Linked DNA regions of Homo sapiens: regions 1, 2, 4 and 5 are each linked to region 3. Evidence: fine-mapped expression QTL. A gene starts in region 3. Each other region holds a variant in brackets. All regions are shown on one strand. Distances are between the middles of the regions.

Region 1 (6,425 bases), 100 kb after region 3:
ACCAGAAACTGTAGGGAGGGCAAACCTTTTCCTCCACCTGTTAGGATTTCTGCTGGGCCTGAGAATGAGATTGACATCAGACAGATTAACAGGAGAAAAACAAACACATTTATGTAAGTTTTACATAACATGGGAATTCTCATAAGGGATCAAAGGCGGAAAGAAATGGCAAGAACTGCCTGCATGTGTATCAGGTTAGACAAGGAGAAGCGATTGCAGAGAATAACTGGATATGTGGCGAGGTGCAAGGGAGAGAATTACTTTAACAAGGTCTGTTTGCAGGGAATTCTCTTGGCGACAACTCCCCATTGAAGAATGTTCCTTTCTTCTGGAGAAAGGAGGGCACCTTTCACGTGGGAGTTTTTGTCTCCTGTTTTCCGGGAAAGAAGGAAGATCAGAGTGCCCTCGTTGCATCTGCTGTTTTCAAGTTGCCTTAGCTTGAGGTAATCCTTATGTCAAAGTGGCCTATTTTGGGGTTGAATGTTCTGCCACTCTTCACTGGGATTGGAGTGTGTATGTGTGTATTTGGGGGAGATTGGAGGCTTGAGTTTGGCGGCTCTGACAAGACCCCAGAGATCCAGGCAGATGGAGGCACCACCATCTTATTACATCACCATCTCAGCATGCTGCTTCAGGGTCTCCCCCATGGAGAAGAAAGCCAGGTGACCTCACACCTACTTTGCTGTGCTTCAGCCAAGAAGTAACCCACTTGATTTTAACTTACAGCCTGCTCATCAGAATTAGCCACATGTCCCTGAGCCAACTACAATGGAGCCTGGAATATGCAATCTTCCCCAGCATCTGGGAGAGGAAAGTGAACATGGAGCATTGTCTTGGCTGTGGTGGCCAACAAACATTGGGACAGAACTTGATTGTAGGGGCACCAGTGGGAGGCGAGTGTTATGATCCGATGGCTTCACTTGTGATCTATTCTTCATGATAATATAGGCTAAACCTGAGCCCTGGGCTCCAGGACAGGCAGTCTGCTGCCTTTGACTAATTTTTAAGTGCAGAGGTGCTGGGCTTCTCTGTAGAGGAGCAGCACTGCTGAATCACAGTGATTTTCCTGGAGAGAGAGTCCTAGGAGGGGATTCCAGCTGTTCCCCACCCCACCTGAAGCAAAGGCTATTATTCCCACAGGAGTGCTCCTGGGGAGCCTGACACCACCAGGGAGGAGCCGCACTTAACCCTGGGGCTTCTTGTCAGAGCTTTGGTTAGGTGAAACCTGGATCCTGGAGGTGCCCTGGGAAGCTTCTGTCTCCAAGATTCACACCCAGGTCCGGCTGCTGCGTGGCTCCCAACATATCACAGAACCAAGGCTCCTTTTTCCAGCTGGCCCATGTCTGAGTTTCTGCTTTATGCTTCTGGTGCTTCTCCCAGCAGCCTGCTGCCTGTTGCAACATGTGCTCACATGCCACACTTCATTTCTGCATCTGTACTCACCAGCTCATCTAGTTCCTCCTGGGCGCCAAACACACACCCACCCTTTTTTGCTGACCTTCTGTCCCTTCCTGGGTTTGCCACCTCCTTGCTTCACACTGACTTTGAAACAGTGTCTGGCCTCCGTGTTACCCGCCTTCTCCCTGATCTAGCCTAGATCCTGAATGCCAGCCATCCCCCTCAGCTCTTCCTCCTGGGCTCCATTCTGCTGACACTCATAATTCCTTCTTTGTCTCCCCTTCTTATCAAAGGCCCAATCTTCATTTGGGGGCACTGCCTCCCTCACCAAAGTGCATTCCTGGACATCCTAGAGCAGCCTACTTCACCAGGTTGTAATTTACACCACAGGTCCCCCTAGGACATTGCCAGTCTCCATGGAAACCTTGACAACAAAGCCAGTCTCCTGGGTTCTCATCCTCTCTCCCTCTGGGGACAAGAAGACTGACTGCAAGAGTAAAGGGCCCATTTCTGTCTCCCTGGGCCCAGGCAAACTGCTGCCTCTGCCTCTGCTGTCTTGGGCCCTGCCTCATCTGCAAGAATGCTGCTCAGGAAGTGCCTGCTTCCTGCATGATGGGAGGTGGGATCACCAGCAGCTGATTGGTGAAGCCGGGGGTCAATCTCAGAGGTCAGCAAGGCCAAACCCCGCTTTGGCACATGGAAGACTGGAGTCCTCAGTGGCTCATGAATCCCAAATGAGAAGGTGAGGGCGGCCTGCAGCCCAGGTGGTTCTCTCTTAGTGTGCAGTGTCCTCTAGGCATCCCTCCAACAGTGACCTGCAAAGGGTTGTGTACATGGAGAGGGCTCACATTCCAGCCCCAGACAGAACCCCATATGATGTTATCATCAGGCTACAAGTTTGAGTTTTCAGTGCCAGGATCTGAGACAGGAGGAGACTCATGACAACCCAGAAGAGGGAGGCCCTGCAGGCAGGCAGAGCCCAGAGAGATTCCCCACCACGGACACCTGTGAGGGCATCAGGAGGAACGTGATGACTGACATTCCTTCCTCTGTGGCACTTACCTTCCTTACCTCCAACCATTTGTCAAAGACCCTTACACAATTCTTTTTTTTTTTTTTTGAGACACGGTTTTGCTCTTTTTGCCCAGGCTGCAGTGCAATGGGGTTATCTCAGCCCACTGCAACCTTCGCCCCCTGGGTTCAAGTGATTCTCCTGCCTCAGCCTCTTGAGTAGCTGGGATTACAGGCACCCGCCACCATGCCCAACTAATTTTTATAGTTTTAGTAGAGACGGGGTTTCACCATGTTGACCAGGTTGGTCTCGAACTCCTGACCTCAGGTGATTTGCCTGCCTCAGCCTCCCAAAGTGCTGGGATTACAGGCGTGAGCCACCACGACTGGCCTCCACAATTCTTTTAGTGGAGATTCAAGGACAAAGGACAGGGACTGGCTCCCAGATTCCAGGTTGTGACCAGTAGCAAAGTGAGCAAAGGGACACTACAGAATCCTCTACTGTGCTGAGGTCTTCGATAGAGGAAGTTGCCTTGCAAGGAGGTGGGAGGGATGCTGTGGGATGGGCTGAGCCATCTAGTTGAATATGAAAGGAGAGGGCCTGGGGACCTCCAGGCAGAAGTCCCGGGAGTTCCTCATTTGCGACTGGTCATGCATCAAGTTCCAGGGCCAAGGCTGGTAGGAATGGGCCCCGTGCAGGCATTGGGGGCTCCCCTTCTCCTTCAGAGCTACATGGAGGTGTGGTGCCAGTCAGTGCACGCTCTAACGTATTTAAGTACCAGCAGAGTAAAACAAGAATGAAAGGGAAAAGAGAAGACATGAATTATTTCGTTTACGCTTGACAAGTACAGGATCCTATTTTAATACAACACAACTTATGGATATGTATTTTTATTTTCTTCAGTACTATGTCATTTGCTTCTAAAATACTTTTACTAATTGGGGACTAGGAGAGTAAAACTTAAATGTATTAGGCAGCAAGAATGCAAGTGAGGGAGAAGTGAG[G/A]GAGAACAGCCACACTTTCTGAGCTGTGCTCTGACAGGGAGAATTTGCTTGGTACACTCAGAACAAAATGCATCTACAGTCAGATAACCTCGAGACACAGAGGATGGCATTGAAGGCTTCATCCACACAGTGTCTACACTCCCTTCTCCCTGAGCCACAGAGCTGTGTCTTTATTCCAGGCAGCAGAGTGCCCGGCCGAAAGTTCATGTTTCCCACCCTACCTGTAGCTATGTGTGGCCTTATGACCAAGTTCTGACTAATAAGATGTGAGTTCAAGGTCTGGGGATGACCTCTGGGAAGGCTGTTTAAAGGAAGTTGAGACCAGGAGGGATACACCTCCTCTCAGCCATCTCTGAGCCTGGGATGTGGAAGGGATGACTAGACCTTCTGCAGCCATTTTGTTCCTTGAAGTAACCACAAGGTTAGAGACTGCCTTAGGATGATAGAGTAGAAAGAGAGAAGGAGCAGGGGTTGTTGACATTTATGGTGCTGCCGGGACAGCCCTAGATTTTCAACCTCCAGTCTCATTTTATGTGAGAGGAAATATATTTCGGCTTAGGTTTCCCCACTGTTATTTGGAGTTTTCTGACGTATTCAACTGAACCTAATCCAAGAGATACTTGACACAGAAATCCCCCTTCTGGGAGACTCAGAAGTTATAGTAGCAAATAAAGACAATAAGGAGCTTTATAATCAACAAACCTATTATAGGCAGAATTCTAAAGATGTCCCTGGAGGACTCCTGTCCCTTGGCTATTCAATCAAATGTCATTCAAGGTATGGCTGTGACACGACTTTGCAGATGTAATTATGGTTACTAACCAGCAGACTTTAAGGTAGGGGATCATCCTGAAATATGTAATTGGTTCCAGTGTGAGTCATTAAATACAGATTAGGAAGCAGATGAGTCAGTCAGAGAGATAAGGCAGAAAAGATGAGAGAATATGGCAGATTCAGGAGTCAGAGAGATTCCAAAGGTGAGGAGGATTGGATGCACCCATGGCTAACAGCCAGCAAGGAAACAGGGGCCTCAGTCCTACAGCTACAAGGACCTGGATACTTCCAACAGCCTAGATTCTACCACAGAGCCTCCAGATCAGAGCCCAAGCCATCAACCCACACCTTGATTTTAGTCTTGTGAGACTCAGAGCAGAGGAACCAGCCGAGCTACCCAACTTCCTACCTACAGAACAATTAGATCATACATTTGCATGGCTTGAAGCCACTAAGCTTGTGGGGATTTCTTTCAGAAATAATAGAAAATGAATACAGAAACCTGATCACTTTCACATAAAATATTAAATTTTTGGCAAAATAACACATACATTTGGTAAAAAATAAAACAGTACAAAAAGAACTATACTGCAAAATCAGCAAAACCCTGCCCTGCCCTTGCTGCCTGCAATCCAACTTTCTTCTCTTAATTATTTTTTCTGATATTACCTCCATATCTCTAAAAAATGTTGCTGTATCTAGATTTGTGAACACAGACATTGCGTATTAACTTTCTATTATGAGAGAATCAAATGTAGCTCCTTCATCCTTTTTCATCACACTACAATTGCTTTAATATGTTTGTTTTTATTTTTTGTTTCTTTGGTTTTTTTTTTTTTTTTTTTTTTTTTTTTGAGAAAGTCTCGCTCTGTTGCCCAGGCTGGGGTGTAGTGGTGCCATCTTGGCTCACCGCAACCTCTGCCTCCCAGGTTCAAGCGATTATTGTGCCTCAACCTCCTGAGTAGCTGGGAATACAGGCATGCACCACCACACCCAGCTAATTTTTGTATTTTTACTAGAGGTGGGATTTCCCCACATTGGTCAGGTTGGTCTCCAACACCTGACCTCAGGTGATCTGCCCGCCTCGGCCTCCCAAAGTGCTAGGGTGTGTTACAGGTGTGAGCCACCGCACCCGGCCACAATTGCTATAATATGAATGAATTCCACCTCCAGTGTTGGCCTAACTCTTGCAGGTGTACTATGATTGCATCTCTTTTCTTAGTCCATGTTATAAAATTTCCCTGTTTGGTAACTTGCATAATTTACTAGACACATATCTTTATTTCCAATACTCCATCAGGCACCTTCTACAGAGTTTTCCTTTATTCTAGAATCCCTATCCCCAGGTATCCCTCTTTCCCTTCCATCCACACACACACACACACACACACACACTGCTCCTCTCCCACTCTAATCTGGTCTGGGTGGTCTCCAAGTTACGTAAACAGGTGGTTGTCATCCTGAGGTGTCTCTGCCTCTCTTTTGGCATTGATTCACTGTTTCCTGATTCCTGTATCTTTCTTATTCTTGGCTTGTGCCACCATTTTTGAGGAATACATCCTCTAGGAAGTTCTACAAAAAAGAATGCAGGATATATTAATGTTTTAGGTTCTTTAGGTCTAATATTGCCATCTTTATGCCACTGAAATGGTAATTTGGCTGGTTATAACAGTCTGAGGGAAGATCATGTGGCCTGTGCATTTGGAGGCCCTTGATCCACACTGTTCTGCATTTGGAAGCGCTGCTGCACTGTCTTCTGCACTGGGAAGTCGCTTATGCACCGTCTGACATATTAGGAAGGCACTGCTCTGCCGTCTCTGCATTTGGGGGCACTGTTCTGCTGTACTCGGCATTTGGATGTTACTGCTCACTGTACTCCAGCTGGAGGCACGGCTCCAACATTCTCTGCATTTGGAAGGAAACATTCCAGTGTTTTCTGCAGTGGGAAGCCCTTTTTCCATTCTTCTGTGGATGTGGAAGGCACTGCTCTGCTTGTGTGTTTGGGGGACACTGTTCTGCTGCTCTCTTCTTTACCATCATCTTCATCTGCAGGCACAAACCCTGTCTTCTGCTGCAGAGCCACTGCCTCCCTGCCCTTTGCAGGCTGAGGCACTGCTCCACAACTACTGCTTCCCTTTGGAGTCAATGCTCCCCTGTCATCTTCACTGACCTGGGACTGCTTGGCAGTCTTATGTATTTAAAGAGACAGCATTCCCTCTTTGCTCTGTATGTGGGAA
Region 2 (6,425 bases), 320 kb after region 3:
AAAACTTTAGAATTACCGTATACTATTACTGCCACTCTTTTAAAATGTATTCTCATCTCTAACAATTATACCAGTAAGACCTATTGACAATATGGATTTCTGATAAATTAAGGACCCTAAATTTGAGTGAGAGAGAAAGGTGTGAGTAGTGACTGCGCATTGCTGCAGCTGTCTACAATGTGGTCTTTTTCAGGGCTAGTCCCCAAAGTGTAATGTGGCTCAAATCAAGCATGAAATTTTTTCTTCCAGAGTTTTAATGAAATGTGCTGGAGGAGGAAGCTTGTGGTAGAAAATGTTGTATGGAAATCTAGTTGCACAATTCCATAAAGCTTTATTTCCATGATTAGCGTAGGAGTTATAGTTTATCTCTATAACCGGTGGGAATGACTCTCACCGTCAGTGCAGGAGATGAGGAAATAATGTCTTTGGTACCCAATGGAAGGCAAAGATGTAAAGGTCAGCTAACACAAAGTGTCTCAAGGGGCATCCTCCATTCTTACCTGGAGCAGCTCCACCTCTGGTTTATGACACATTTCCATTAGTTCCTGATACATTTCTTTCAAGTGTTTACTCTTTTGATCCATTTTGACCCAACTTCTCTGGAGTTGCTGAAAAATCTCTTGGTATTCCTTGTTCAGTCTCTCTAAATGTTGTTTTTCTTCCTTATGGAGAACCGGATGCAGCTTCCTATACTCATTCCTGATCATCTGTGCCCGTAAAACCACATCGCCCTGTAGGGATATGAATTTTGTAGGTTATATACCCAGGCCTACTTCCACCTCACAGAGCCCACAACTTCATCCTCCTCATTCCTTCTTTTATTTTCCATCCTTTACAAACAGGATGATGAGTTAAGCAAGACCTTCCTTCAAAATTTATGTAATTCATCAATTCCCAAACACCTGCAAAAAAGCCCTTTAGGTTTAAATGTTTAAATCAAATCGGAAATACAATTAGAAAACAACTAAAATTTATGATTGATTGTTACATTGTCATGGATAATACACATAATCTTTGTTATTCACTTAGGTTGTTGTTTCAAATCTCTGTACTTCACAGCCTGAACAATCACTCTTAGTAGAAATGTTTTTAGTATATTATAATCAGGATCAGAAGCCATCACACAAAAAGGATCTTAGTAAAAAATTTAACCCCCATCTCTCAAACCGACTACCTCTTTTCTGTCTCCTATCTTTCTTCTGTCAAATCCATAGACTCTGTATTGCACTGCCATTCTAAGAACATTAATCCCCATTCCATTGTGTTTCTCCTCTCAATAATGACATATTTATCCTCTCACTGCCCCAGTCATTTTTTATCCCTTCTCCTCAGCTTTTCCTCATGTTGCATTTTCTCCTACTCGGACTGGCATCATGTGGGTCCTTTGCTACCAGATTTCACCAGCACAGGCACATTTCTTAAATTACTGTTCCCACCCGATTTCTTCCCCCGGACAATACCATATTCACCAATAAATGCCTTTATTTCTCAATTATATACTATTTAATCAATATTTCATAATTCATTTTATACAGAAAACTGTCTGAAATACTTATTAATTTTAAGCACATACTTGCCCTTCAGAATTTATATTTATTTTTTACTTATCTGAAAAGCATTTACAGAAAACCTGAACAATCGTTATGTTGAACAGTCTGGTTGTTTTCCAGCCTATGAATAAACACATGACAAAATCTGGCATATGAGAATTTCAACTCAAGTTGCTAATATAAATGTTGTCAGCATGCCTGTCTCAAGCTGGTCAGGAGGACTCACGGTCTCATACTTACCCTCAAGAGGAAGGCTGTTCTTCTCTCCTCATATAGATTTCTCTGATTTTCTTGAATCTTTTTCCATAAAATCCTCATTTGCTTTAAGAGTTTCTCCTGCAAAAGAATTAAAGGTTGAACAGAAAGTCAAATACCAAAGATTCCACCATCTGAGTGGTATAAGCAGGCAAGGGATCTAATATATAAATACATTAGTGAGAGGAGAAAAAAACAAAATTTTTCATTGCTCATCCTTAATTGATATTTTTCAGTTTGAGGTTTCAGAATGTAGAACAGTTTAGGGAACTGAAGAGTGAAGATTTCCTGTAACCCAGCTAAATTAGTTCAGGGAAACATCCTGCTTCAGAACCCACTATGCTAGCCCCTGATTTTGTAGTGTGCTACTCCCATACTCATTTGTCCAGTAATATTAAATATATTTCCAAAATACCTTTCTTTGCACTGGTAGTTTTGGTAGCTTTTCAATGTCATTAGCATTGAACTGTAGAGTCAATAATAATGACATTTACTTAATCAGTCTCTTTTTGGGTGCAAGCTCCATGAAGGAAGGTAGAGTTGCACATTTTATTCAAAATGTCATCATTGGTACCTAGAACAGCACCTGGCACTCAGTAAAGAATGGAGTAATCACCGTGATTCTCATCATCCTTCTAATCTCTTTAACTCTGCCACCCTCCAGCTTTCAGGTGATCACAGAGCTATCTCTTACCCGGTCTTCCTCAGCTGCCTCTTCGATGGGATAGTGTTTGTGAGCCCCGTGCTCCTGAGAGTTGGAGCACAGCAAGCAGAGGAGACTCTTGTCCATGTCACAGAACATCTTCTTTGTTTGCCTATGGGTCCCACATATTTGTTTCTCAGAGCTCAGGAATTGCCAGAGACTGGCTTTTCTGGCAATGGTCACTAAATTCTTCAGAAGAATATTGGTTTTGAAGTCCATTTTCGGTGATGGTTCCCTGCATGCAGGGCAGTTTGCAGGACTTTGGGCTTCCTCCCACGAAAGGCAGAGACAGGGCCTACAGAAGCTGTGCCCACAGCAGATGGTGACAGGGTCTACCAGGTAGTTCAAACAGATGACACAGGTGAGTTCCTTCTGGAAGGCATGTGAGAAGTCTGAGTCCATTTTCCTAAGGAAAGAAAACCACAGGAATTTAATCTTCTACCCTGGAGAGACAAAGATCCAAGCAAAGTTTGAATCAGATCGTGATCGAATAATATCCTTTCTTTCTAAAGAAGTATAGGTTTTAATTTGCAATGACAGAAATAGGAAAAATAGAAAACTAAGGCACAAAGAGACATCAATCTCTATAAAAAGTGACTGTTCTCCAATCAACACATGACCAGCTTTCCAAACTCTACTTTCTTGCATGGAAGAATGTCGGATTTTTTGAGGTGTTAGTATCCACCAAATTGCTTGGGCTTCAAGGGTTTCATCAACCTGTAAACTCAAAGTTTGAGTCTTGAACGGTCTGAAAATCAGTAACAGTCTTCATTGCCAGTGATTGGTTTAGAGAAGGAAAGCTAACTAAGCTCTTCTACTCTCATTATTTTATTTAACTATAACAACCATCCATAATGACTTTTCCAGAAGGACATTGCTTGAAAATGTTAGAGCAGAACTCATACTTTGACCCAAATCAGAAAAAGCCAGCCTTTACTCTCCAAGGAAAAACAGTCAAATCAAGGTAAGTTACCTCTCCAAGGTAAAGCTAAGAATCATTGTTTTTCTAGGCTGCTATGTTAATTTAATCAACAAAAACTTTCTGGCATGTTTCCTGTTCCTGGACAGTCTGTTAATTTGGGGATATACTGGTTAATATTACAACATCTTTAA[AAGAC/A]AGACAATTAATTCAATTTACAAAAAGATAATGATAATTGAAGCATTATCATTACTCTTTCACACAGTCAGGAAAAGAGTAAGTATCATGCAATAACAGGCACTAGAGGCCGGGCACGGTGGCTGACGCCTGTAATCCGAGCACTTTGGGAGGCCGAGGTGGCTGAGGCTGGCAGATCACGATGTCACGAGATCAAGACCATCCTGGCTAACATGGTGAATCCCTAACTCTACTAAAAAATACAAAAAATTAGCCGGGAGTGGTGGAGGACGCCTGTAGTCCCAGCTACTCTGGAGGCGGGGCCTGGAGAATGGCGTGAACCCGGGAGGCGGAGCTTGCAGTGAGCCGAGATAGTGCCACAGCACTCCAGTCTGGGTAACAGAGCAAGACTCTGTCTCCCCCCCAAAACAAAAACAAAAACAAAAACGAGGCACTAGACAGTTAAGTCAGCGTTTTAAATGTATGTTTTGCTAAAATACAAATAAAAATTAAAACCAAGCCAGGGAAGGTGACTCAAGCCTGTAATCCCAGCATTTTGGGAGGCCAAGTCAGGCAGGTATTTTGAGCTCAGGAACTCTAGACTGGTGACACGGTAAAATGTCTAGATCATCCTGTCTCTAAAAATACTTATATAAATTTAAAAAAAAAAAAAAAAAAAAGGCCGGGCGCGGTGGCTCAGGCCTGTAATCCCAACACTTTCAGAGGCCGAGGTGAACGGATCACAAGATCAAGAGATGGAGACCATCCTGGCCAACATAATGAAACCCCGTCTCTACTAAAAAAAATACAAAATTTAGATGGGCGTGGTGGCAGGCGGCTATATTTCCAGCTACTCTGGAGGCGGAGGCTGAAGAATCGTTTGAACCTGGAAGGCGGAGGTTGCAGTGAGCCAAGAGCGCCGCCGCACTCCAGCCTGGCAATAGAGCGTGATTCCATCTCAAAATAAATAAATAAACAAATAAATAAATAGCTGAACATGGTGGCCCATGTTTAATCCATAAACCTATGGATTATGTTTAAAATAATTTTAAAAAAGAAATGGAGCCTTTTTAAAACTCGGAAAATGAGATCATTCCATCTAAAAATAATCTAAGTTTGCAGATAAATTAAAGTCCCCAAATTTTGTTTTGGTTTGTAACCTAATAGTAGATCCTTCTCTGGAAATTGTGTACTTACCTCAGAAATATATCTATGTTCTCACCAAAGCTTGCTGTCGAATCAGATGGATTCAGCTCAGGGATGAGAGTCTCACAGTGCAGTGCTGGTAGCTTTCGGAAGTCCCCAAAGCCAGTTGCAAAGCTACTCTGTGGGCTCTGGAGAAGAATGAGCTTGGCTCCTGAAGTGTCGGTTTATAAATCTCTGAAGACCACACCCCTTTCTTCCAATTGATTGCATTTCACAGGGCGTAGGTGGGTGTTAACATAGATGATTAAGTTTCTTCAGAACAGAAGTTTTATCTTTATTTATTTATTTTTTTTGAAAGGAGTCTGGCTCTGTCGCTGGCTAGTTTTTTTCTTGCATTTTTAGTAGAGAGGGGGTTTGATATAATTGATATAATAGGAATTGCAAATAGAGAAGCCCACACAAGCTAACCAAATTAATTCTAGTTTATTGGATAAATGGCGTGATATGTATTCTAGTTCAAATTTGAAGGTTGGTATAAACCTTTTCAGACACTGGAGATGAGACATTTCACCAAGATTGGGTGTGAGGAAGAGGAAAGAAATAGAATAGTATATAAAATAGTATATAGAGTAAAAATATAGTAAAAGGAAAAATCAATCTGCATAATATAGTGTATGGCTAAATGTGTTTTAACATTTAGGTGAATCAGACATGGAAAAATCCTAAAAGGGAGATTAATAGAGTAGATAATTGACTCAGTAAGAACTGTGAATAAGCATCTCAGGAAGAGAAACTAGAAGTCTTTATATAGGTTTTGATTTAAAGAGGGAGAGAGAATAGGAACATTGAAAAAGATGGACAGAAAGAAATAACAAATATTCAAGACTCCTTGCAAGAGTGAGGCAGAAAGTTTATAGATTGCTTGATTACACCCAGCATATAATTATTTGAAGTTTTCTGTTGAGAGTGAGAGTATGTAATCCTTTTAACCAAATGTCTCCGCAGAACTATGTGTCATTAAGTAAGGTGATAATCAATATTCAATATCAAAAGATGCGTCTATTTCTCGATGAGGAGAAGCAACTTCATCTGCAGGCACTGGACAGAGAAGCAAAAGGGCTTTTCCAACAACTACAAGACAGTCAAGTGAGAATGACCCAACATTTAGAAAGGATGAAAGACATGTACAGAGAGCTGTGGGAGACGTGCCACATGCCTGACGTGGAGCTGCTCCAGGTGAGGAGGGAGGGTCCATCCCCAAAGAAAGGAAGACTTTGCTGGACAATGCTGCCAGGACATGCAAATGTCACCTGCATATGTCACTGCTCTCAGCTTAGTGACACATGCTGTCTGACTCCCACATTACATTTGTCCAGTTTTTCAGAAAAAAGCTACAAAAGAAGCTTATTAGAGGGGAATATTCCCTGTGGTCAGTGTTTGATAAAGGGGAATATAAAATTACATCCACTCAAAGATTCCAAAAAAGCTTGCTTGATCATGGTTAGGATAAGAATTACATTTCACCTATGTTATTACTATTTGGAAAAGTTCCTCCCTCTTAGAAGGAGGAGACACATATATGATATATATATTATATATATATATGTGGTACATATATATGTATACACACATATGCATATATATATACCCCCACACACACACATATCTATGGTGT
Region 3 (6,425 bases):
TGGATGCTGGGAAACCCCGGAGGCTGGCATTTGTACCCCTCCACATCCAGCTCACTAGAGACAAACCTGAATCCCCCCTGAGGGCCAGTCACCATGATCCCTGATGCCAACAAGGATTAGGCAGTTACCATCTGCCAGCGGAACTGCCAGCGGACTCTAACAACAACATGAGGCGGCTCTATGATTGAGTGGTTAAGATCTCAGAGCCAGACAGCCTGGATGTAAAATTGGGGTCCCTTCCTCACTAACTAGATAACCATGAACAAGTTACTTTCTCTCTCTGTGCCTTGACTTCTTCTGTTAACCTCTCCACACTTTGGTTACCATTCTTCAAAATGGTAACCATTTATGGGAATGTTTTAGAGACAAAATGAATTAGTATGTGTAAATTGTAGAGAATAGTTCCTGATACAGGTTTTGTTCTCCATAAATAATAACTATTTTCATCATCATTAACATTATTATAGTCTTCATGTTACTGCTGCCTGCTTAACATGTTACTGGTGGCAAACCAATGCATAGAGAGGTTAGGTGACTCATCCAAGGCCACACAGCCTGTAAGTAGTAAAGTTAAGTGTGCCTCCTCCCTTATCCAGGGAGATAACATCTGAACAGGGACCCAGCTTCAAATAGCCTGCCCACCTGTCCATACCCTCAGAACCTGCTTGTCCCCAATTCTCCATGAGCTTTCCCAACCTCTCCAGAACAGGCCGATTCCCCTTTTCGTGAACCTCGATGGAAAGGCCTGTCTGTGCCACTCCATTTGGCATCAAACCATTCACATCCTGTTACTGGTGGCTGCGTCCTGGGTGTCAGGGTCCTCTTCCACTGTGGCTGTGACACTCTTTCAAGGCCAGGGCTGTCACATTACCTGGTGGTCACCACAGTGCCCTTTCTAGAAATATGTCAGAGTAAGCCCAAACGATCTGAGTGGGTGCACAGCAAGAAGAGAACACCCCGGACAGGTCAGGGAGCCATCATTCACTTGGATGGGCTCAGCCTCCTGCAGAGACAGCATTGGGTCAGTTCCCTTAGTGAAAAAAGAGGCTACTTTTTGGTGAAAAGTAGGCAAAGCTAACCATCGTTCAGGCATTTGAGGAAAAATTAAGAATACAACTCACCCGAGGCCTGGCTTTCAGGAATGAATTGGTTGTTCCCTCTTCTCCTGGGAATCTCTCTGGAGGAAGAGCAGGATTCTGAGAAGGGGAAGCTGGGAAGGTAGAAGGAGACATAAGGGAAGCTGACCCAGCCAGCACACACAGCTCTCAGACTTCCCAAGCCTGAGACCCAGAACAGCTCTGAATGTCACCTCCGTTGTTCTGAGGACACCAGTGGATCAAAAGGATCTGAGAGGCAGCTTCTAGCCTTCAAACATTGAGAGAAGTGCCCCTGTACACAGCTGCATGAGGCTCCCACCTGTCCACAGCCCACATCAGTCTACAAGTGAGTGAAGTGTGACCAGTCTGGCCATACCACTGAAGTTATTTACTGGGCATACTGTATGCAGGTCATCTCCTAGGACTTTTGGAAATATAAATATGGAAAAGAACTTCAAGGAACTTTAAATCTAGCCTACAGGTTAACAATTACACAAGACCCAAGGCAAGGCCATGCAGGATTATGAGGCTTTAAGGGGAGGAAGTTACACCTCTCCCCTCATCCTTGGGAACCCAGCTCAGAGGCCACCTCTTTCTGAGAAGCTGCCCCTGGTGTTCCCAAGCTCTGTTAGGTCTCTGCAACACACTTGAGAGCTCCTTCATTATAAAGCTTTGCATCATACTGTTCATAAAAGCCTTAAAACAAACAAAAAAACTAACCCAAACCATGCCAGAGAAGTAGTTAAGGCTAACAACATGGGTGTAAGCATAGCACAGTTAGGCATTCCTCAAGCTTCATGTGTGTGTGGATCCCTGAGGATCTTGTTAAACTCTGGCTCAAGACTTGCTAAGACACTGTTTGAGGATGTGTGGGGCCCCAGAGTCTGCAATTCTAGAGAACTTCTGGGCAATGCCTCTGCTGTTCCCAGAGCCACACTGATTAACAAGGGTATAAAGGAAAAAAGAGGGGGTGGGAAGCCCACGGACTGGGCCCAGTTCTTCCACTGGCCAGTTATGTGTCCTTGAGCATGTGCACTGAAGGATGAACAGTCGGATTAAAATGCCCACCTGGTTAGAGATAGGACGTTCTAAACTTAGGACTGGCTTAAAACCTCCTGGGTCACCTGGATTGCCCTGCCCCCAACGCTATTGGGGGAAGGGGCTCAGAGGAGATACCCACCATGTACACTGCTGACCTTATACACCGCTGAGCTAGAACGACTGGAAGAACCTTATTAGTGAGGTGATTAAGGAGGTGGATGACAAGGCTCCAAATGGCCCTATCGTCCTCTGATCCCTGGCCAAGGGCCACTCCCTCTTGGGTTTGCTTGCCCTCTCCCTGCCGCAGCAGGAAGAGATCAGATCCTCTTCTGCTCTCCTCTGGCCATTGGGACAATTTTCCATGGCCATCCCCTCCACCTCCGCCACGGTCATCTAGAGACCCCTGCCAGACCCAGGAGACTGCGGCTTCAGCCTTCTGGGTCTGGAAGGTTAGATGTCGCCACACGGAAGGCAGATGAAGTACAGCCTCACCCTTCAGTGGGATTCCCCGGCCTCTTCCTGGGGTCCTCCTGATATCGGGCTCGGTACTAGCTCCCCAAGAGGGCTCCTGGCCCTCTGCACGCTCCAGAGCCAAACCTGATGCTGTGGAGTCCATAGCTGGGGCTAAGGAGCGGCGTCCTTTCACTAGGTCCAAATCTCTGTCTTTCGGCCACAGCCCTGTGGTCCTCCCGAGGGTTCAGGGAGCGGGACGCAGGCTGGGGCTGCCTGGGGGACACGGGGCATCCCCACTAGGCGCGGCGGGGCCAGCGGACCTGCAGGGCCCAGAGCAGGGCCGGCAAACCCCGGTGCGCCCAGCGCGGCGCACTGCTGCCCGGGGTCGTGCTCTTCCCTCGCCAAGTCCGGCCTCCTACCCCCGGCTCGGCTCCTCCTCAGGACCAGGCTCTGGAACCCAGCTCCCACGTGGATCCACACGCACAGTGGGCTCAGACTACCAGGAGACACGGCCACAGCCACGCCCGCGACGCGAGGGCCCAGCGCTCTTCAGCTGCCCGGAAACAGCAGGGATTCGGTGAGAGCCTCACAGGAGCAGGGACCGACTCTATCAGCCCGGTTCGCCCCGCTGTCCCTGCCTAGCTCCGGCCTGCACAGTCCCTAGCGGGGGGCACTCGGAGGGACACACCCAGCTCTGTAAGGGGCCGGGGCGCGGGCCCAGTACAGGTCTGCGCGCCCGCAGTCTCCGAACGCTCACAGGACCAGGCCCCGCCCGCCACCCCGCGCCAGCCCCCGCCCGCCACCCCGCGCCAGCCCCCGCCCGCCACCCCGCGCCAGCCCCCGCCCGCCACCCCGCGCCAGCCCCCGCGTCCGCCCCGCGCCAGCCCCCGCGTCCGCCCCGCGCCAGCCCCCGCGTCCGCCCCGCGCCAGCCCCGCCTCCCGAGGCCGTCCCGAGCTTGCGCAGACGCGGCCGCCGCCGGGGCCCTTCAGAGCCAGCGCCGGTGGCGGGGTGCTGGCGCGGCGAAGCTGGAGAGGCGGGGCTCGCGGGCGCCTGTAGGACCTCCGCTGGGAGGGGCCGTGCTCGCCGGCCACGCGCCGGTTTTCACTCCGCTCTCCCCCAAGGGCAGGGACCTACAAGCATTTCCCTTCTCGCGCGTGACTTTGGTAGCTGAGCCTCATATCTCTCTCGTTTTTTGGGGGGAGGGGGGAGACAGCCTCACTCTGTCGCCCAGGTGGGAGTGCAGGGGCGCGCTCTCGGCTCACCGCAACCTGTCTTCTGGGTACAAGTAATTCTCGTGTCTCAGCCTCCGTAGGAGCTGGGATTACAGGTTCCCGCCACCACGCCCAGCTAATTTGTTGTATTTTTAGTGGAGACGGGGTTTCACTATGTTAGCCACGCTGGTCTCGAATTCTGACCTCAGATGATCCTCCCGCCTCAGCCTCCCAAAGTGCTGTGATTACAGGTGTGAGCCACCGCCCCCAACCTGCATATCTCGATGTAAGGCTATTCAACAGAAGCCGCGTTCCTACCCTGGATCTGCTGAGTGAGGATTTCCAGGAGGCTCTCCTGGCGTGCCTAGGGGATACTGGGGACTCAGTGCTAGATACTGCTTCTACAGGCTGCCCCGTGCCTCTTGCCTTTCTCCATCTGCCCCTGAATTCAGCGAAGGGTGCTGAAGAACAAAAGAGGACTTTGAACGCCCTCCTACTCCAGAAACAAATATCATTTAGGACCCAAAAGAAATGGAAAAACGGCCTGCTATGGTCTGAATGTATGTGTCCCCCTCAAATTCATATGTTGAAACCTAACTCCCAAGGTGATAGTATTAAGAAGTGGAGCCTTTGGAAGACTCTGCCCTCATGAATGAGATTAGTGCCCTTTAAAAACAGCCCTTAGACCGGTCGTGGTGGCTCACATCTGTAATCCCAGCACTTTGGGAGGCCAAGGCGGGCGGATCACTTGAGGTCAGAAGTTTGAGACCAGCCTGGCCAACATGGTGAAACCCTGTCTCTACCAAAAATATATTTAAAAATTAGCTGGGCGTGGTGGTGCACGCCTGTAATCCTAGCTACTCAGGAGGCTGAGACAGGAGAATTGCTTGAACCCGGGAGGCAGAGGTTGTGAGCCAAGATCGTGCCACTGCACTCCAGCCTGGGCGACAGAGCAAGACTCCGTCTCAAAAAATAAATTAAATAAATAAATAAAAATAAAAACGGGCCTTAAGCCCCCTTTGCTCCTCCTGCCATGTGAGGACACAGAAGGTGCCATCTATGAGAAACGTACCCTCACCAGCCCCTGAACTGGCTGGCACGTTGATATTGCATTTCCCAGCATCCAGAACTGTGAACAACAAATTTGTGTTGTTTACAAATTCCCCAGTTTAAGACACTCTGTTATAGCAGCGCCAATGCCTAAGACACAGTCTGAGTATTAAAACGGTGGTTTTCTGGAGGCAGTCCTCAGCCAGAGAAGGGCCACTTGTGAGGACAGAGAGATTGGTTTATCAACCCTATTTAGGAGTTCAGGACAAAATAACTTACAAAATCAAGGCAAAGACAAAATAACACGAAATCAAGGCAAAGAGACCATTCTCCTTTCCTGCTTTTGCAGTCTCTGTTTCACTTTTCTGCCAGCACTTCCAGTGGCACAGATGGCCAGGATGGCGCAGCAAGCAAGCCCTTTTCCACGCAGGGGGACATTGTCTGGGAACCATGGCTGATATAGGAGCTTTTCCATCTTCGGTGCTCCGAACCAAAAAGGTGAGGGGATGGACAAATGAGAAAAGATTTTCATCTCATTGATGGCTCAACAGAACTAGAAATGGAACTACTTCAGAAGAACTTGAGGGCCACTGCCTTTCCCTGATGCCCATTCTGTAGGCCTGCTGCAGTGTCTGAAATTCCCCACTCTTACATTGTGTCCTTTGGGACAGATCTTGATCCAGAGGCCCTTGTTTGTTACAATGCACATTCATTACCCCAGGAATATTCTCTCTCCTGCTCAGTGCTCTAGTGCACCATTTGATCTCAAAGCACTGTTGGTGGGGCTCCAGTCCTCACCAGCCTATACACTCTCCATCACCTTCAATATTCCTTTTACTGCTCCTTTGCAGTCAAATGCCTCTTCCACCCCAACCCGTGACCACTGCTCTGTTACCTTCCCTATAGTTTTGCCTTTTCCTGAATGTCACATAAATGGAATCATACAGTTTGTAAATTTTTAAGACTGGCGGCCGGGCGCAGTGGCTCACACCTGTCTCTACTAAACCCCGTCTCTACTAAAAATACAAAAATTAGCCGCGTGTGGTGGCGTGCGCCTGTAATCCCAGCTACCTAGGAGGCTGAGGCACGAAAATCTCTGGAACCCGGGAGGCAGAGGCTGCAGTGGGCCGAGGTTGCAACACTGCACTCCAGCCTGGGTGACAGAGCAAGACTCCATCTCAAAAAAAAAAAAAAAAAAGAAACGAAAACTGGCTTCTTGGCCGGGCGCAGTGGCTCATGCCTGTAATCCCAGCACTTTGGGAGGCCGAGGTGGGCGGATCACCTGAGCTCAGGAGACCAACCTGACCAAAATGGAGAAAACCTGTCTCTACTAAAAATACACAATTAGCTGGGCATGGTGGCACACGCCTGTAATCCCAGGTACTCGGGAGGCTGAGGCAGAAGAATCACTTGAACTCGGGATGCGGAGGTTGTGGTGAGCCAAGATCGTGCCATTGCACTCCAGCTCAGGCAACAAGAGCGAAACCGTCTCCAAAATAAATAAATAAATAAATAAAGCCATGCAGCTTCTGTCTTGCTCACTGGGACCCTCTTAGAGCCCTGAAATGAGGT
Region 4 (6,425 bases), 680 kb after region 3:
TTATCAGGTATTTTTATAGCAAAACCCCACTCCTTGGTACTAATTTCTGTGTTAGCAACACAGAATAACACAGAAAAGAGCAACATGGAGAAACACAAATTTTTGTGTTGCTATAAAAAAATAGCTGAGACTAGGTAATTTATAAGGAACAGAGGTTTGTTTGGCTCACAGTTTTGCAGGCTGTAGAAGAAGCATGGCAGTGGCATCTGCGCAGCTTCTGGTCAGGGACCCAGAAGGCTTTTACTTGTGGCTAAAGGTGAAGAGACAAGAGGTATGTCACACATGGCTAGAGAGGTAGGAAGAGAGGGGAGAGGTGCCACACTGTTTTAAACAACCATCTTTCATGTAATGCAGTGAGAACCCACTCATTAGTGAAAAGAGGGCAAAAAGCTATCCAGGAGAGATCAACCACCATGACCCAAACACCTCCCACTAGGTCCCACCTCCAACATTGGGGATCAAATCTCGACACAATATTTGGAGGGTACAAATTTGCAAACAATATCACTCTCTTTTTCTCTTTAACTTTGGACAATTTGATTGTAGTGTATCTTGTTGTGAGTCCCTGGATTCACCTTATTTGGTTTCGTTTGGGCTTTCTGGATCAGGCTTTCTGCTTTCTTCCCCATGCTTGATAAATTCTCTGTCATTAATCCTTTAAACATTTTTCTGTTCCTTTCTTCCTCACTTCTCCTTCAGGCATGCCAATAATGCGTGAGTGGTCCTGCTCGATGGTGTCCCATAACTGTCTAAAGTTGTCTTCACTCTGTTTGCATTATCTTTTTTTCTGATCCTCAGGTTAGATAATTTCCAGTGACCAGTCTTAAAGTTCACTTATAGATTCTATTAATGGACACCTCTATTAAATTTTTTCAGTTCAGTTACAGTACACTTTAGATCTATGATTTGTTTGACATTATTGTGTAATGTTTTTCCTTTTCTTGAAGTTCTCAGCTTGTTCTTGCAAAGCTATCTTGACCTCAGTGATTATTGTTATGACCATTATTTGGAAATCTCTGTCAGATAAATTACATATCTGCACTTCACTCAGGTGCTGGAGATTTATCTTGTTTTCTTACTTTGAATATGTTTCCCTGTTTCTTCATTTTTCCTCGACTCTCTCTGTTGGCTCCTGTGCATTTGATAAGACTGGCCTCATGTAGGAAAAGGATCTCACCAAACTTTCCAGCCAGAGATCTTCAGGTACCTCTCAAATCCTTGTGTGCTCTAGTGTTGACTGTTTTTGTTGGCTCCCTGGAACTTAGGATGTGCCACGCCTTGTCAGTAACCAGAAATTGGTTAAGGTAGGAGCCAGACAATCCAGATGTAGCTAAAAAGTTAGAAGGCTGGAGGAGTGTTTCAGTTCTTTCTAGCTACATGATGAAGATTAGTATGGACATTTATCTCCCACTCTCTCTCCATTAAGCTTGGTAGAGGATCTGTGACAAACACACCTATGCACACTCTGGATGCAGCCTCTGATCCTGAGGAGATAGCTTCTGAATGTGGGCCCATTGTATGCTTACTTCTTTGTTTTCTATGGTCTAAATACACTCAAAAATAAAAAATCCTGTCGATTCACAGAGCAAAGTTGTTAAGAAAACAGTTCCTTGGGCACTAACTACAGAGGTTGTGGAATTTGATGCATAATCAAGCTCCTTCCGGGAAGAATGGGTAGGCTTGGATTTATTACTGGGTTGAAACTGACGTAAGACTGGTAGTGTCAAACTATGGTTCCATCTGCCAGATGAATTATACTTTGTAAGCCACATTAGCCCCCATGATGCCAGTATTTAAATACAAAGCTAGAAATGATTAATAGAGTGAGAAAAGCATGTTGAAAGCTCAGATAGGCTGAAAGCTAGGCAACTTGCATTAAACAGTAAACTAAGCTGTGAATGCAAAAAAAAAAAGTTCTTAAAGGAAATTAAACAGGCTACTCCAATGAATGCAGAAATGATAAGTACAATGGTATTACTGCTGATATGAAGAAAGTTTTAGTGGTCTGGATAGAAAATCAAATGAGCCACAACATTTCATTAAGCCAAAGCTGAATCCAGAGCTAAGCCCTAACATTCTTTAATTCTATGAAGTCTGAGACAGGTGAGGAGGCTGCAGAAGACAAGTTTAAACTAGCAGAGGTTGGTTCATGAGGTTTAAGAAAAGAATCTTCATAACATAAAAGTGCAAGGTGAAGCAGCCAGTGCTGATAGAGAAGCTGCATCAAGTTATCCAGAAGATCTAGCTAAGATCATTGATAAGGGCAGTTATGCTAAATAACAGATTTTCAATGTAGACAAAACAGCATTATACTGGAAGAAGAGGATACCTAAAACTTTCACAGCTATAGAGGAGAAGTCAATGCCTGGCTTCTAATCTTCAGAGGACAGGCTGACTTTCTATGTACTGGCTAATGCAGCTGGTTACATTAAAACATTAAAGGAAGTACTCATTTACCATTCTGCTACATTTTTAAGTTCTTCTAAACCTATGCTACCTATACTCTATAAATGAAACAACAAAGCCTGGATGAAAACACATCTGTTTACAGTATGGTTTACCAAATATCTTAAGCACACTGTTGAGACCTATTGTCCAGAAAACATGTGTGTGTGTTTGTGTGTGTGTATACGTGTATGTGTGTGTGTGTATGTATATATATATGTGTATATATATAT[G/GTA]TATATATATATATATCTTTTAAAATATTACTGCTCATTGACAATGCACTCATAACCCAAGAGCTCTGATGGAGTTGTACAAATAGATTAATATTGTTTTCATGCCTGCTAACACAGCATTCATTCTGAAGCCCATGGATCAAGGACATTTTATTATTTAAGAATACATTTTGTAAGCCTATAGCTGCCATAGACAATGATTCTTCTGCGTATCTGCACAAGGCAAATTAAAAATCATTTGGATTTTTTTAGAAAGCAATCACTATTCTAGATGAAATTAAAGATATTTGTGATTCCTTGGAGGAGGTCAAAATATGAAGTTTGGAAGAAGTTGATTTCAGCCCTCATAGATAGCTTGGAGGGTTTCAAGACTTCAGTGGAGGAAGTAACTGTGAGTGTGGTGGAACTAGCGAGAGAACTAAGTAAAATTGGAGCCTGAGCCTGTGACTGAATTTCTGCAGTTTCATGATCAAACTTGAATGTACTAAAAGTTGTTTCTTATAGCCCCATCCATCTGAGATGGAATCTATTCCTTGTGAAGACACTGTTGAAATGACAAAAAAAAAAAACACCTATCTTATTATACAAACTGAGTTGATAAAGCGGTGGCAGCATTAGATAGGATCGACTCATTTTGAAAGGTGTTCTACTGTGAAGTAAAATGCTATCCAACAGCATGGCACACTACAGATAAACCTTTCATCAAAGGAATCAAGGAGTCAACTGATGCAGCAAACTTTACTCTTGTTTTATTTTAAGAAATTGCCACAACCACCTCAATCTGCAGCAACCACCACCTTAATCATGCAGCAACCACCACCTTAATCATTCAGCAGCCATCAACACAGAGGAAAGACTCTTTATCAGCAAAAATTAAAATTCACTGAAGGCTCAGATGATCATTTGCATTTTTAGCAATAAAGTAGTTTTTAAAGTATGTAATTGTAGACATAAGGCTATTGCACATTTTATAGACTATGGTATAGTATAAAAAACTTTTATATGCAGTGTAAAACCAAAAATTCAAGTTCTTGTTACATTGTGGTTGCCTGGAACCACACCTGCAATATCCCTGAAGTATGCCTGTACAAGAAAATATGGATAACATACTAAAATAAATTTGGGAAAAAATTCATTAACAGAATGATAGTTCTGAAGTAGAAATAGATATGATAACAAAAAACAAATAGAAATTCTAGATATAGAGAATACAACAAACTAAAAATTTAATACAATGCTTCAGCAGCTGATTTTATTAGCAGAAAAAAAGAATCAGTGAGCTTACAGAAAAAACATTTGAAATGATTCCATCAGGGGAAAAACAACAACAAAAAAGAATAACAAATGCATATGGCAATTATGGGACTCAATCAAACAACCCAACTTTCATATAATATCAGTTTCTGAAGGAGAAGAAAAAGAAAAAGGCCTAGAAAGCATATTTAATGAAATAATGACTAAAAATTTCCCAAACATGAAGAATGATGACAACACTGAGGTATGAAAACTGCAGAGGTCATGAATCCATTTCAATCCAAGAGGCATTTATCAACACACATCACAATGAAGTTATTAAAAATGAAAAACAAAGAATACTGAAAACAGCAAAAAAACAAGAAATACATCACATTCAAGGGAGCTTCAATATGGCTTTCAGTGGATTTCTCTGCAGAAAACCCTACAGTCCACAAGAGAGAGGGATGATGTATTCAAAATGCTAAAGCAGACAAGCAAGCAAACAAACAAAAATGCCAATCAACAATACTGTTCCCGGCCGGGTGAAGTGGCTCATACCTGTAATCCCAGCACTTTGGGAGGCCGAGGCAGGTGGATCAGGAGGCCAGGAGTTCAAGACCAGCCTGGCCAACATGATGAAACCCCATCTCTACTAAAACTACAAAAATTAGCTGGGCATGGTGGCATGGGCCTGTAATCCCAACTACTTGGGAGGCTGAGGCAGGAGAATTGCTTGAACCTGGCAGGCGGAGATTGCAGTGAGCAAGCTTGAACCTGGGAGGTGAGATCACACCACTGCACTCCAACCTGGGTGACAGAGCAAGACTCCATCTTGAAAAAAAAAAAATTCTGTGCCTAGCAAAGCTGTCCTGTAGAAATGAGGGAGAGGGAGATATAAAAACCTTTCTATACAAAAAAAAACTAATAAAGTTTATAATCAATATCCCTGTTTGATCAGAATTACTAAAGGAAGAGCCTTACATTGAAATAAAAGCCTAAATAGTAAGAAAAAAACATATAAAAGTAAAAAGCTTCAATGCTATCAGTAATACACAGTCATGCTTAAAATGCTGTAATATTCTAAGGGTGGTTTGTAAAGCAATTTTATCCCTACTAGTAGGGTTAGCAGACAAAGGTACTGAAAATAACTGTAGCTACAATAAATTGTTAAGGTATATAAATATGAAATAAAAGGGTAAGTTTTGACAAAATTGTACAATTGTATGGGAGAGAGAATGAAAATGTAGACTTTTGGATGCAATTAAAGAGAAGTTGCTATCAGAAGTTGTTAGAGTAGTTTGTTATAAGAATATGATATTTTAGGTAAGTTTCATGATAACCACAAAACAAAACCTATCATAACTGCACAAAATAAAAAAGTTTATTTTGCAATTTATCCAAAATTTTAAAGCATACCACCACAGAAAGCCATCAAGCTATAAAATAGTTCAGCAAGAGAGAAAAAGGGAACAAAGAACTCATAAAACAATCAGAAAAAAAATTACAAAGTGGCAGTAGCAAGTCCTTCCCTATAAATAATTACCTTGATAGTAAGTGCATTACATTGTCAAATAAAAGGACATAGAGCATCTCAATGGATAGAATAAAAAACAAGATTCAATCATGTGCTGCCTACAAGAGACTCACTTTACCAGTCAAGACATATATAGGCTGAAACTGAAAAGATGAAAAAAGATATTCCATGCAAATGCAAACTAAAATAGAGCAGGGGAGCTATACTTATTATTAAAAGAAATAAACTAAGTCAAAACCTATAAAAGAGATACGGTTCACTGCATAATGATAAAGGAGTTAATTCATCACGAAGACATAATACTTGTAAATATATATGCACTCAAGGTCACAAGACCTAAATTCATAAAGCAATTATTAAATAATCTCATGAGAAAAATATACTGCAATACTATAATAGTAGGAGACCTCAATACCCCAATTTCAACCATGGAAAGATCATTTAGAAAGATAATAAATTAAGAAACATTAGATTTGAATTATACTTTGGAGCAACTGGATCTAACAGATATACCCAGAACATCCTATCCAACAGCAGAAGTGTACCTGTTCTTCTGAAATGTGAGTGGAACATTCTCCAGTATATATCATATGTTAGGCCACAAAACAGATCTTAACAAATATTAGAGAATTGAATTATAGAAAGAAAATTTTTGCATCCCAATGGCATAAAGCTAGAAATCAGTAACACAAGAAATCTTGAAAAATACATAAAATGGCAAAATTTAACATATTAATAAATGGCCCATGAGTTACAGAAAAAATTAAAAAACGTATTTTAAGACACACAAAAATGAAAACACAACATACCAAAACTTATAGAATGTAGTTAAATAAATCATTATACCTCAATGAACTAGATGAGAAACAAAGCCAAGAATTAGCAGAAATAAGAAAATAGCAAAGATTAAAGTGGAAATAAATAAAATAGATATGAGAAACCCAATGGAAAGAATTAATACTGAACTTCTTTTTAAG
Region 5 (6,425 bases), 150 kb before region 3:
CTGACTCCAGCCTGGGTGACAAAGCAAGTATCTGTCTCAAAAAAAAAAAAAAAAGACTCATTTAAAAGACTCAAAACCAATTTACTATCAGACCATTGACATAATTAAAAAAGAAAATGAGTATATTAAATTTTTAAAGCCAGTTTAGAATGTTGGAAGATGTTTCCTTTATTAAATTTGTGATTAAAATCAAATGTTGGCCAGGTGCACTGGCTCAAGCCTGTAATCCCAGAACTTTGAGAGGCTGAGGCAGGAGGATAGCTTCAGCCCAGGAGTTTGAGACCTGCTTGGGCCACATAGTGAAGACCCCCATCTCTAAAAAAAAATTTTTTTAATTAGCTGGAAGCAGGAGAGAAGTGGGTGTGGCCCTAAAAGGGCAGCATGAGGGATCCCTGTGGGGAAGGAGCTGTTATGCATCTTTTCCTACTTTTACATTTTTTTAAGAGATGGGGTCTTGCTGGGTTGCCCAGGCTGGAGTGCAGTGGCCATTCACAGGCGCGATCCCATAACTGATCAGCACAGGAGTTTTGACCTTTTCCATCTCTGACCTGGGCCAGTTCACCCCTCCTTAGGCAATCCAGTGCTTCCCTGCTCCCAGGAGGTCACCATATTGATGCCCAACTTAGTGTGGATACCCAATTGGCACAGCACACTACAGCCCAGAATTCCTGGACTCAAATGATCCTCCTGCCTCTGCCTCATGAGTGGCTGGGACTGCAGGCACCTGCCACAATGCCCAGCAGATGCTTGGCCTCTTGAGTGTGGTAGTGGATACAAAATCTATTCTGTGTGGGTGATAAAGCTGTACAGAACTAAATACACATGCACACACACACACACAAATGGATACAAGTAACACTGAGGAAACCTGAAAATTGGTGGAGTGTATCAGCATCAATGTCCTTGTTGTGATATTGTACTATGGTTTTGCAACCTGTTATTATGGAGGGGAACAGGGCAAAGGGCACACAGGATCTCTCTGTATTATTTCTTACAACTGCCTGTGAATCTATAATGATCTCAAAATAAACAGTTTCATTTTTGGTTTTTTGTTGTTTTTTTTTTTCTTAAAGTGCTTTGGATCAGGAGGCAGGGACCTGGGATCTGGCCATGTTGTTCCAAGTCAGTCACTGTGTGACCTTGGGCAGTTCACTTCTCTTCGCTGCTTCTGTTTTCCTTAACTGGAAGATAAAAGTTTAAATTTCCTAAAGGTGTCCCCCAGTGTGGACAGCCCGGAGTCAAGGCTGTGGTGTTGCTGTGACCTGAGGCCTCAGGTCTAAGAGGCTGCTCCTCAGCTGCATACAGTGGGCAGGCCTCTATAGCATGCCCTGTCCCCTGGGGGACCGCAGTGGCAGGCACAGCACAGGACGTTAGGTACTAGGACCAGGAGTCCTGGCCTGAGGGGTCACTGGCTGCCGCAGGCTTGGCCAAACTGGCCTTAGGCCAGATGCTCCGTGTTATGACCTGCACCTGCTCTCTGTGGGAGGCAGAAAACAGAGCTGGGGCATATATGAGCTGGGGCACATATGTGCTGGGGCACATATGAGCCACCTGGGAGCTACAGAGAGAAGAGCAAGGAGGAGGATGTCGCGCCAGGCTGAGGTCAAAAACTGCGTGCCTGAGTCAGCCAGCGTCCAGTCTGGAAAACAGAAACCATGCTGGGTATTTCACAAAGAGGGGATTTAATTCAGGGGCCTGATTACAAATAGTTTCCAGGGCACAAGGAGTACAAAAGGAGATGAGAGATAACCCAGAGAATTAATAACCACAGGAAGTGAGCGCACCCCTTAGGGCTGGAGGATCACAAGACAAGAGGTCCTGGTGTCTGAGCAGAGGAGTGCGCTGCTGCCGACAGCACCGACCCGCGGGGGTGGGGGTGGGGGAGCACTAAACTCCTGCAGTCAGTGCCCCACCAGAAGTAGAGTGAACAATGGTTTCTTTCCTCTACCCACCTTCCTACAGCCTGCCAGAGCCCACCACTGGCCAAATGTAACTAAACCCCAGCAGCAAGGCGCCTGGGAAATGAAAAAGCAAGGCCACCAAGTTGCTCTTTGAGAAGTCTGACTCCAAATACACCACAGCCTGTTTACCAGGACCTGTGAGCACGGACACGTGGACGCAAACACTTGCTATTTACTTCCTTCTTGATGTATATTTTTTGGACAACATTCACATTCTTATTTTATTTGACTTTAGGGAGTTATTGGTTTTTCTTTTTTAAAAAAAATTCCTTATAGAAATAATAAATAATAGAATTTACAAAAATATTTTAGAAAATTCCATGACTCATAAAGCAAAAGTAGAAATCACTGGGAATGCTCTGCTGCCCCCATGATGGTCAATGTGAATATTTTGGTGCTGGTGTGGCGTGTCCTTCCTGGCTGTATCTGTAAATGTGTTGGGTTAAAATGGGGTCTTGGCTTCTCCATGGAAAGCAGGACATGCCAAAGGATCCCCATGACAAAGGTCCAGCCACATAGGACTTTCCAGGGGGCATTCTGCCACTTTTATTAGTGCATTGCCCATGCTGATGACAGAGAGGAAGGCAGGAGGGTACCCCAAGCCAAATACAGGGAGTGTCAAGAGAGTGCTCTGAGAACTTGGCTGGGTCCCTGGAGGTGGGGTGGGGAGCACCAGGACCCAGTACCAGATGTGTGCCTGGAAAAACCTAAGAGCGAGGCCTGCAGCAGCTGCTGCCTCTACAACAGGGGGAAGAGGGAGTGAAGGCAGAAGCACGTGGCCTTCCCTGGGCAGCAGGGTCAGCTGCACTAACTGGCTTCTCTAAGGGGCCTAGATGGCTTGGACAGACAAGGCGAGTCCCCCACCAGGGGAATCCCAGGTGAGTTGGCAGCCAACAGGCCAGAGCTGAGAGCTAACAGCCAGCAAAGGAAGGGCGCCA[T/C]CAAGGAACCACAGGTGCGGCCCCTAGCACAAAAGCACCACGGCACGAGAGAGGGCGCCTCAGGGCACAGCCTGGCAGAGAGAACTTCAGAGAGCCCCAGCGACCTAGGGTTCAGCCTTTGCTCTGCCCACTGGCCCTGGGCAGAGAAGGGGTGGAGAGAGGGGGTGGGGCCAAAAGCACAGTTGCTAAATAGGAGAAAAGGTAAAGTGAGGAAGAGAGAAAAGCCCCCACACAGAAGCTGCCCCTTCTACTGAAGGTTTTCAAGCCTGGGCTGGGGAGGTGGGTGTTTGGATTGGATAAAAGATTGCAGCTTTGGTTTCAGACTGGGCTGGATTTTCTAATCTTGAAAAACAAAACCATTCCTGGATACCCGAGACCCATGTGTGGCAACTGAGCCCTCAAAACAAGACTGGTCCAAATAGCAATGTGCTGTGAGTGTAAAATACACATCGAACTTCAAAGAACTGGAACAGAAAGAACGTAAAATATCTCAAAAATTGTTCTATTAATGTATATGTTTAAGTGATAATGTTTTAGAGATCTTGGGGCTAAACATAATACATTATTAAAGTTAATTCTACCTGTTCCATTTCACTTTTTCTAATGTGGCCACTAGAGCATGGAAGCTTAGGCATGCAGCCGCTGGGCTCTGATCATCTTTCTCTTGGACGCACAGCACAAGAACACAGCTGAGGTTTCTTCTGGGGCTGGGAGGAGGGCTCTCCTTGGCATTCAAAGGGGTGAGGGGAGAAGGTTGAAAGTTACTTTTCTGTTTTCCCTTCCAACAGACTATGCAGTGCCTCGGTGGCACAGGACATCGGCAGCAGCCGCACGGGAATTTCCCACCGCCCCTTTACTTCACTCCAGGGTAGTTCCTGTTCTGGTTACTTACTTCCAGGGCAGTTCCTGTTCTGGATGAAAGCACAGCAGGGGATCTGTTCATTCTTGGGTGATAAAAACTGGATCCAGTGTTGAGTCCCCTTCTCTCCTCACCCCCTAAACCCCCTCCAGCCTGCTGCAGCCAGGGCGGGGCGGCACAGTGGGCTGCCTAACTCTTCTTCACACCCCTTCTCCTCAAAGCCATTTCCAGCCCTTCCAGTATGGAGACGGGAAAGGGAGAAAGGAAAGCAGCAGGAGCGCTTTCACCCACTGATGCCTGTGATGGGATCTGGCCCTGGCAGAGGTGCTTTCCTGACTCCTTCGGAGATTTCCCCCACCACCCCCCACTCCAGGTGCTGCACGGCGCACCTTTGGCTACAGACCCTAAGGAGGAGAAGGCCGCTCTGTTCAGATTGGCCACTCCCTCCTTCCTCGGCCCCTGGGCAGCCAGCCTCACCTCCAGCCCCTGGGGTGGTCTCTTCCCACAGGAGCTGCCACCACCTTGGGCCGCCTCACTCTCTCACCTGGCCTCTGGTCAATGGGAACGCTTTGGCTCTTCTTTCCCATGACCCACTTGGGCTCCAGCATAAGAGCAGGCTGCCAGCCTGACTTCACCCTCTGGATCATCCAAGCCTGGGTCTGAGGCCAGTCTCTATGTCCCTCATGCTGCGGGGGTCCCAGGTTAAACTCTCCCAGCAGGCTCCTTAAAGCCCTTACTTCGGATGGACTAGACCAGTTACACCCCTCTTCTACCCCCAGGATGGCTCCTGCCCCCACGAAGCTCTTTCTGAGGCCCACCTCTCAGCCTTTCCTCCCTCGATGAAAGGGAGCTTTGAGGGATCATGCAAAGCATTTTCCCAGCCCCTCCGTGGAGATTCTGCAGGTGGTTGCCCCAGGAGAAAAACACAATCTCAAAGCGCTCTCAGGATATTTGCTAGGAAAGGAGATGCTAATGGTGAGGAAAGCCAGAAGCACTGTGGGATTGGGGTTCCCAGGACAGCCGCCAGCCCAGTCCTGGCAAAAAGCTTCCTTATAAGGGTATCCTACTGCAGCGCTGCCTCGCAGCCACCTCTAAAGGCCCTTTCTGGGCCTCATCAGCCAGCAAGCGTGTCACATGCCTGATGTCACAGGGCTGTGGCTGTGGTCATGCACATGGAGACAGCTCCGCTCTCAGCAGGCGCTCTTGTCTCTGTCACAGAACATTTTCATTCTGGCACAGCTGTGCACCTGCTCAGTAATGTCTCCTGTGCCCTCAGAGGGTCAAGTTGAGAACCCGCTCCTCAGCTTCCAGTTAGTTGTATCTGGCCCTCCTCCTTGGTCGCTGTAGAGGTCTGCTCCTCCCTGAAATGCGGAGCCTCTTGTCTCTGTCTGTCTACACCAAACTCTCCGTGTAAGCATCTACTGCACACAGGCAAAGCAAAAGGGGTCCCTCCCTTTCATGTGTATATGTGTATAGAGTGTAATTGAACATCTTTCCATCTTATTGTAGGTACACATTGTAGTGTGTCCCCATGACAAATCCCAGAATCCCTACAAGGCAGGTGTAATGAAACCCCCGCTCAGCTTGGCTTAAGGCCACCCGTTTCTGTTACAGTCACTTAAAGAGCAGTGAGGGGAGCAGGCTCTGGCCAGCAGCCCTTGACAAGCTCTGGATGCCCTGCTCTCCATGGGCCCAGCCTGTGCACTGACCCTGTCTCTGAGTCACCATGGCCCAGGGAGGGTTAGAATAAAGTAGAGAATTATTAAATAAACCAAACCCAAAATAATAATATTTCATGTAAGTTTGCACATAGTTTACAAATTCTAGGTGTTTCATCAAGTTTAAAAGAAATTAGCCCTAATGGAGTAAATATTCACCTTTTTTGCTTCTAATTTAAAATATGTCATCAGCTGAGCTTTGTGATTTTTACTTAAAATGTCCTAAATTTATAAGCAGTATAGAAGACTTGAGAGAACTCAAAATACACCATATTTCTAGATTTAATCTATTGGATTCATAAGTTGTTTAAATATTCAGGAATATTTTAAATAATTCTAATAATTAGAATACTTACAGGAAAAACAGAAACTATTACATTTATAAATACAATTCTAAAGGTTTAAGGGAATTTAATCCTTAAGAAATTATTAAGAAATAAAGTTGTCCTTAAAATGATTGCCAAAAATGTTAGACAAAATATGTACAATTTTCAAAATATACACGTACAATTTTACAATTTGCTGGCTGAAATTAAATGCCTGAGTAAAAACTGGGTTTTTGAATGTGTGGGTTTAATGAGTGAGATATTAACTCTATAAAGCAGAGTAACCTCTGGTTAACCTTTCCTGTAACAAAAACTTTCTTCAAGGACAACAAAAGGTGCCATGAAGGAGGCCTCCTTTCCAGGGCCGGTCAGAGGAAGCCAGAGTGACCCTAAAGCCCACAGCACTGTGGGCAAAGAAGTGGAATAAAGAATAAAAAGAATAACCATAACTTAAAGAGGGCAAGTCTAGTCAAGGTAACACCTGCCTACCCAAGGGGTCACAATCTTTATATATTGCTCCAAAGTTTCATTATCTGGGCAATAATTTCAAAATTCATCACGTATCCCATTATTATATAAATCTACTCTTCAATTCTTTGTAAGGTTGAACCCTGCTCAGCGCA

Evidence for each region.
Region 1: its variant is fine-mapped to the expression of ZNF514 in whole blood (TOPMed, PIP 0.95).
Region 2: its variant is fine-mapped to the expression of ZNF514 in unexposed skin (GTEx, PIP 0.91).
Region 4: its variant is fine-mapped to the expression of ZNF514 in T cells (GENCORD, PIP 0.95).
Region 5: its variant is fine-mapped to the expression of ZNF514 in lymphoblastoid cells (TwinsUK, PIP 0.95).

Annotation. Positions count from the first base shown.
Region 1 is chr2:95,258,794-95,265,218 of GRCh38, forward strand. It overlaps a transcript of ZNF892 not described here. Among named protein-coding and RNA genes, the nearest start is that of PROM2, 12 kb to the right of the region's middle. RefSeq lists a silencer at 6,171-6,355. The variant G/A (reference allele first, on the strand shown) is at 3,415.
Region 2 is chr2:95,479,805-95,486,229 of GRCh38, forward strand. It overlaps TRIM43B (tripartite motif containing 43B), which reads right to left and starts at 4,950. Exons shown (of 7, transcript NM_001164464.2): 1 at 4,802-4,950; 2 at 2,500-2,914; 3 at 1,791-1,886; 4 at 501-731. The coding sequence starts at 2,910. The variant AAGAC/A (reference allele first, on the strand shown) is at 3,622.
Region 3 is chr2:95,156,230-95,162,654 of GRCh38, forward strand. ZNF514 (zinc finger protein 514) reads right to left here and starts at 3,619. Exons shown (of 5, transcript NM_032788.3): 1 at 3,011-3,619; 2 at 1,122-1,210. RefSeq lists a silencer at 3,446-3,695.
Region 4 is chr2:95,838,251-95,844,675 of GRCh38, forward strand. No RefSeq gene overlaps it. Among named protein-coding and RNA genes, the nearest start is that of LINC00342, 14 kb to the left of the region's middle. The variant G/GTA (reference allele first, on the strand shown) is at 2,679.
Region 5 is chr2:95,003,103-95,009,527 of GRCh38, forward strand. MAL-AS1 (MAL antisense RNA 1) reads right to left here. Exons shown (of 8, transcript XR_007087136.1): 7 at 3,481-6,425; 8 at 1-31. It also overlaps the pseudogene RN7SL575P. Among named protein-coding and RNA genes, the nearest start is that of MAL, 19 kb to the right of the region's middle. The variant T/C (reference allele first, on the strand shown) is at 2,900.